Linked DNA regions of Homo sapiens. The protein of the gene in region 1 interacts with the protein of each later gene in a biochemical or structural test. Each region holds a gene or a part of one and is shown in the gene's direction. Other genes may lie near its edges.

Evidence for each region. Proteins that work in one complex are often made in the same cells at the same time.
Region 2: the proteins of NDFIP2 (region 1) and NEDD4 form a complex in vitro, tested with the Homo sapiens proteins (3 studies listed by BioGRID, with this or other methods).

Annotation. Positions count from the first base shown.
Region 1 is NC_000013.11:79,479,598-79,483,353, forward strand, and holds the start of NDFIP2 (NEDD4 family-interacting protein 2), read left to right. Parts: upstream 1-1,557; 5' UTR 1,558-1,606; coding exon 1,607-1,927; intron 1,928-3,756. UniProt on the Homo sapiens protein: Activates HECT domain-containing E3 ubiquitin-protein ligases, including ITCH, NEDD4, NEDD4L, SMURF2, WWP1 and WWP2, and consequently modulates the stability of their targets. As a result, may control many cellular processes.
Region 2 is NC_000015.10:55,826,383-55,829,729, reverse strand, and holds the end of NEDD4 (E3 ubiquitin-protein ligase NEDD4), read left to right. Parts: 3' UTR 1-2,808; downstream 2,809-3,347. UniProt on the Homo sapiens protein: E3 ubiquitin-protein ligase which accepts ubiquitin from an E2 ubiquitin-conjugating enzyme in the form of a thioester and then directly transfers the ubiquitin to targeted substrates. Specifically ubiquitinates 'Lys-63' in target proteins.

The DNA of each region.
Region 1 (3,756 bases):
ACATTAAGATCAAAACAAGGCAAGTTTAACAATATTTAAGTATGAGATATCACTGCCTCTTATTGTTAGCACAGTAATGCTTTATGCTATTAGACATGTCAAAACGGCACAAATAGGAAGAGTTGATGAATGCTTTAAAAAGAACTATGAGGAAGGCTTACATTTTTTAGTTGTCAATCTCTCAAAGAGTTTCTGTTTTTATTCTATCTTGCTATTTTAACCAGTTGATTAGGCTCACCCAGTGGCAGTCTTCATTTCAAGGATCTCCTCTGGACATTCATGAAGGAAATAAATGGGGCTCCAGATCCCTTTCCTTCCCTTCAGGGCGCTCCACTGTAAGATCATTTAGGGAAAATGTGGTGTTATGTTAAAAACATAGCTGGGCCACATCAAGCAGCATCATAGTTTTTAGGGTATAGAACGTTGGTCTTCAGGTTAAAAGGTACTTTTCGCTGCTCTGTCATACTCTTCTACTTGCTAGAGAAATATGCTTTATGCCGTGTCATGTGTGGTTAACCAGACAGTGAGATACTACTAACAGTGCTCCCAAGTGATTCCTTGCTGTTAAATCAATTGGAATTATTGAGTATTACCACAAAATAATCCTATCTGATTTCATTACTTTCTTCTAACGTCCTTCCAGTAACCTAGAACTCTAGAGACCTCTTTCTTTGAGAGTTGTCTGGAGAGTCCGTTGGATTTTTAAATCTCTTATTACCAAAAAGTGGAAAAAAGAGTTTAAAAAGTAACCAAAGAGCTAGTGCCTGTAGTCTCAGCTACTCCAGAGGCTGAGGCAGGTGGATAGCTTGGGCCGAGGAGTTCGAGGCTACAGTGAGCCATGACTGCGCCTGCTAACAGCCACTGCACTCCAGTCTGGGCAATATAGTGAGACCCCATCTCTAAAAAAACAACAAACAAAAACAAAAATTACCCCACAGAAGAATTTCAGGGCAGTGGAAATACTCTGTAGGATACTATAATGATGGATACCTGCCATTACACATTTGTTCTAACTCGAGGAGTATACAACAACCTGAGTGAACCCTGAGGTAACTATGGACTTTGAGTGATGATGAGGTGTCAATGCAGGTTCATCAGTCGTAACACATGTACCACTCTGAGGGGGGATGTTGATAATGGTGGGGGGTTATGCATGCGTAGGAGCCAAGTGTATATGGGATATCTCTGTAACTTCTCAATTTTTCTGTAAACTCTAACTACTCTATATTAGTCTTTAAAAAATCGCTTATCTTACGAATGATTTTGAATAAGCGTTTTGGGAATGTTCTAGAGATGAATCTCCTCCCCATGTCCTACGCTGGGTGAGGAAGTGTCGGGTACCCGGGCGACCTGTCCTCAGGTGTTCTAGGAACGCGGCCCCATCCCTTGTCAGCCTCTGTCTCTGTGTGGTGAGAAGGCGCACTGGCTCGTGCCTGCGCGAAACTCGCGCACACAGAAAAGACCAATCAAGGACGGGTCATTCCCGCCCCCCGCGCGCCTTTTGCGACCGCCCACTCGACAGGTTGACAACCTAGACAGCTCCCCCGGACTTGCCTTACTTTTCCATCTCCTCCCACCCAGCTATACCCTCCCACTGGCGGCGCGGATGGCACGCCGGCGGAGCCAGCGAGTCTGCGCGAGCGGTCCGAGCATGCTCAATAGCGCGCGCGGCGCCCCGGAGCTTCTCCGCGGAACCGCGACCAACGCGGAGGTCTCGGCGGCCGCTGCGGGAGCCACAGGAAGTGAAGAGCTTCCGCCGGGAGACCGCGGCTGCAGGAACGGAGGCGGAAGGGGCCCTGCGGCGACGACGTCGTCGACGGGGGTGGCCGTGGGAGCTGAGCACGGAGAAGACTCCCTCTCTCGGAAGCCGGATCCCGAGCCGGGCAGGATGGATCACCACCAGCCGGGGACTGGGCGCTACCAGGTGGTGAGTTCCCGGCCTCCTGTGCCTCCCGGGACTGCCTCCCGCCGCGGCGTCCCGAGAGTCCCTTTCCTCAGGTTATTCCCGGAGGAAAAGCTGTGGCTTTTTTTTGTTGTGTTTTGTTTTGTTTTTTTGGATCTTCTGGCTGGAGCTGCTTCACTCGCCTCACCTGCGCACTCCTGCCTAGGACTCCTTCGAAACCCTTCTCTCTCGCCCCAAGTCTGCTTAGCTCCTCACCCGCACCCTTAGCCCCGCTGTGAGACGCCCTCCCTCCACACACCTTACAACTTGTATCCGTTTTAATTTCTCACTTTATCATTTTCTTATTCTCTGACTCAGTCACTCCTGAGACATTCTAGTCGATTGTCTACTGGAAATGGGGCTGACTTCACATACCTGCCCGGAAGGTGATCGCCGTCATAAATGGGGTGGGTGAGTAGGTGGGTGGAGGTGTAAGTACTGCGTGGGGTGGGATGTGGATTTGGCAAAAATGTGGGTTAGGAATTGTGGAACTGTAGAGAAAGACTAGCCATAATGCTGATCTTGTCTCTCTGCTCGTTAACCTTGTCATTTTGTCCTTTTCCATTATGTTAGTATTAAAAATGACTGTATTTTTTGGTAATCCCCACTTTTTCTTTCTTTCTTTCTTTCTTTTTTTTTTTTTTTTTTTTTTTTTTGGTTAGAGGGGAAACAGAGGTAGTTTTAGTAGAACAAATTCTAATCTTGTTTGAAAAATTATTTTTCGTTAAATACAAGGTTTTCCAGCTTAACTGTGTAAACTTTGGTAACTATGTTGAAAAAAGTGAAATGTGTTCCTCTATATTTTCAGTGTCAATTTTTAAATATATTTTTCTTTGTGTATTCTGGTGGTGACGTTGGAGATTCCTGTTGTAAACCTTAGTTAAAGATGGACTGAGCAATAGTTGACTCTGCTGTTGTGCTGTTGCAGCTAGGTAGCATGTCATTCTACAAACTTTCAGCCCATTTACTGAGGGAGAGGAGAAAAACAATACATAGCACTGGTGATGCAGTTTATGGTTTATAAAATTTTACAAATTTAGGTATGTTAGTCCCAGGTTTCAACTTTCAAATCTATTTGCACATGTAAGACAGGTTATAAGCCAAGACTTTCTATTAATAAGTACATTTTGGCAAATATGAAGGAACTGTAAGATGAGATCCTAAAGTATGTAATTTTGCATTTTTCTAAGATAAAAGCTCATGAGGCTTCCATTTTCAATTGGTTTGCATTCCTTAAAACCTACAAAAGGTCCATATTCCGAATTCTTTGAAAATTTATCAGCTTTTCTCAACAACTTGGGAAATACTGTTTCTCCCAGTATGGAAAGCGTTTTTCAAGTTGTCAGTGTACACCCTTTTGATGGTTTGAAAGGCATTTCTAGGTTTGTAAATGTTAGCAAAAATAAAATGATATAAATATTGAATAATATCAGCAGTGAAACTTGTTTCATTTTTCCTACAGACGTCACTACCCAAAACACTGTTAATTTATGTAGCTCTCAGTTTTAAGATATTTGTTTTCCCAACAACTCCTTTCAAAATAAATGGGCATATTTTATTGCTGCCCCCTCCCCTCGTTTTTTTCAAACTGACGATGTGTCCTACATAGACTTTGAATGTTCCTTGAGAACAGAGGGCAAAAATCAGTTCTTCTAAAGATAAAGCCTACCAGTCCCTCTAAAGGTAGTACTTTAGGTAGGACATCGATCTGTTCTCCTTGTAAGGCAACTTACAACTAACATTGTAAGGCAATGTTAGTGTTAGAGTTACACAATTTACGTAGTCATTTAACCTATCTAGTATAACTCTTGGTT
Region 2 (3,347 bases), on another chromosome or scaffold:
TCACTTTTAAATAATGTGTTGCATTTACACAGTTGTTTCATGCTGTCTTTAGAGTTAGGTGCCTGCCTAAAGCCAGGCACCACCACACCTGGCTTTAGAGTTCACACAATAGGATATAAGTCCTGTATGACTTAAATAGTGAATTTTGTCCTTAACATTTACCTCTTGTATAGTATCTGCCAGGCAGTTTTTTCTTAAACTACTGAGATGATAACTGTGAAATATTTGTGATACGTGTCATGTGTGAAAAGTTTGATGCATTTTGAGATGGAAAACTGAAATTTGGAAAAAGAAATACTTTACTATTGAGTAAACTACAATATATTTAGTGCTACTCGCAGCTATTTATTATTTTGTAGACCTGCCTTATGCACCTTACTGCCTAGATTTTTGGGAAAAAACTTTGGAAAGTGTGTTACCTATATTTCTAGCCAACTAACTCACAGAAAAACTGTTTACTTCTTCACTTTCGAAGTATTTGGCTTTTGTTAATATGCAGTTTTACTAAACAGATGGTTCATAAGACATGTGAAGCAAATTCATATTTGCAATGGGTAAAAAGTATTAAAGCCTTTCTCTTGCCTGCATATCCTATTGACCATTGGTATAGTCATCACTTTTTCATATTTTAGTGTAGTTAGAAGAATTCCTTCTTCAAACATTAAAGATCCACAAAGCAGTATTTCTAAATATGCCTTGAAGAACTAAATGAAGTGTATAGCACTTGCCTTTACTAGATATTCTTTACACTTGTACAATTATGTAGTAAATGTATGTTTACAGGGTTTATCATGTTTACAGATTAAGCTAATTTCTGTAGTCGCATTTTTATATTTTTAGTATCACTCTAGTAAAAAAACCAAATAATTTGTTTAAAATAACCAAAGAGTTGTTATAATGCATAATTTGTATTAAATTTATTACTATTTCTTATGCCTTTTAAAATACTGTTTACTATGAAGACAATGTTTTTAATTACAAATCCAGAATTCTGTAGGCAAAATGCTACAGTTCATATCTTCCTTTAACCAAACTGAAGTACATAAAGACCATGTACATGTATTCATCAAACGTTTATTGAATGCTGCGTGCCTAGCGCTGTGCTATGCTCTGGGGTAAGAGTTGTCAGCTTCAGAGAAGCTGAGTCCTGATCCTCAAGGAACTTGCAAATGTGTCTATGAATTTGTAAAACAATCAAAAGTAGGCGTAAGCAGAATAAGGCAAAAGGGAAAGTGTTCTAGGTTCCAGCACACCTGCAAAGATAAAGTGTGCCAAGACTGTATTTATATTTCATACTTATATTGTTTCATCCTTATATTGGAATGATTATATAGAAAATGCTCTTAAAAAGATTAAACCTATTTCTCAGTATGGTATCTTGGTGATTTAGGAATAATTGTAAATATATGTTACGAATCTTCTTAAATATATATATATACACACCCTGTGAGAACTGTAAAAAGTACCTCTGGTTCTTGGTTTAAGTTTGTTGGGGTATAACATGATGAGTACTCATTAGCACCTGATAGAAATCTGAAATGTGACAGTAGCAAAACCACTTTCTACTTTCCAAACACCACAGCATCAGCATGGTTTAGGGGAAGCAATTCACAGATTAATGTACCCTGCGTTTTGTCTTCACCATTGTCAACCAGCAGTCAAGGATGAGCACCAGGTATAGTCCTGGTTTGATATCTCACCAGCCATGTGAACTGAAGCAGCTTACTTAACCTCTCTGGATTCATATTTCTTCATCTGTCAAATGAGAGTAATCATGCCCACCCTCATTGTCATGCCAGATTGTCAGAAGTTCCAGACAGATGAGAAAGCAAAAAGTACTTTGTAAAGTGTTATACAATCAGAAGGTGCTTTGTGCTGACCGTCAGATTGTGTCAAGTCAGGTGTGCAAATTGACCACACTCCCAAAGAATCATTTAAAAGTAAAGTGACTTCTAAGAGACAAGGAAGTAGGAACATTTCTGATATTAAATATATAAATAATATGGATACACATGTGTATATCTGTATATGGATCTTACCATCATAATTCATTTTCTTCATATCAGCAAAGTAATAGTAATGTGGGCCAATGCATTTTGGAAATGTCCTCATTATGTAGAATGGAATGTGAAAATTATTTTTGTTAAAACAGGATTTTGCCACAATTATTTAAATATTATGTTTGTGAACTATCTAAGCATGAGAAAATACAAAGCTTTCTTTGTATCTGGCTGATACTCATTTGGATGATTCTGTGACTCATAGAACATGATGTTAAATGAGACCAGACTCAACTGCCACCAGTCCCCAGCTGCAGACCTTCATCCCCTTCATCTCCCACTAGGGGCTCGTGGTCTGGAAGAAACATCTATCAAGCAACACAGCCCCTTATCCCAGATAGAAAAGTGTCTCAAATGCATTCTACTGCGGGACAGTCAGTAGGATCATTTTCATAAAGCAAGGACATCATATGTTTCTAGAAATTACAAGCATATAACTTTAGCCTACAATCTCTTATTAAAAATTTTTAACAAAATTGTATTACAAATGCATTTCATCAGAACTCAAATTTAAATGGTGTTTGTTTTGGGTTTTTATTTATAATGCTGAAGTTATTCCATATAAGTATCAAGTTAAACACAATTCATTTTGATTATAAACTATTTGACTTTTTAAAATCTTCTGACACAGTAAATATATATATCAAGATTGATGTATCAAAATTTATTGCACACTTTAAAGTGTAAAATCATTTTTTAAAATCTTGAATCCACAAATAAAGTTCTATTCTGATTTTAAAAAACAAAACAAAACTGTGGTTCATTATAAAATAGGAGTGTTTCCAAGTCAGTATGCTGGGTGATGTCTTCTGGTCTAGTTCCTCACAGCAGCACGTTAAATTTTCAGTGCAATCCTAAACTTATTACCTGATGAACTAACATGATTATAAACTCTCAACCACAGATAATTAATTTCCACTTTACAAAAAGGTCGTATTGCATAAGTCTGGTTGTTAGTGAAATAGCCAGAAGATAAAAATAATAGCTAAAAATGGACTGGATTTCAGGCACCTTGCTGCTCATCAAAGAAGCCATTCTTGTAGCCAACCACTATTTACAACATCATTTCTATGAGAAAAAGAGTTCGGAGTGTTAATTCAGAACGAAGTGTCTTTTCCTCCTTCCTCTCAGGCATGAGAATTAGTTTCCCAGTTAGAAGGGAATCCACTCCCACCCACTCAAGCCAGCCTGGGAAGGTGCTGTTCCAGCCCCCTGTTTCTGCCATAATCCAGGCCATAGCTTTTAATTTTGGGGACCTAGGCCATGGCCCTCTGCTTCCACGTTTCC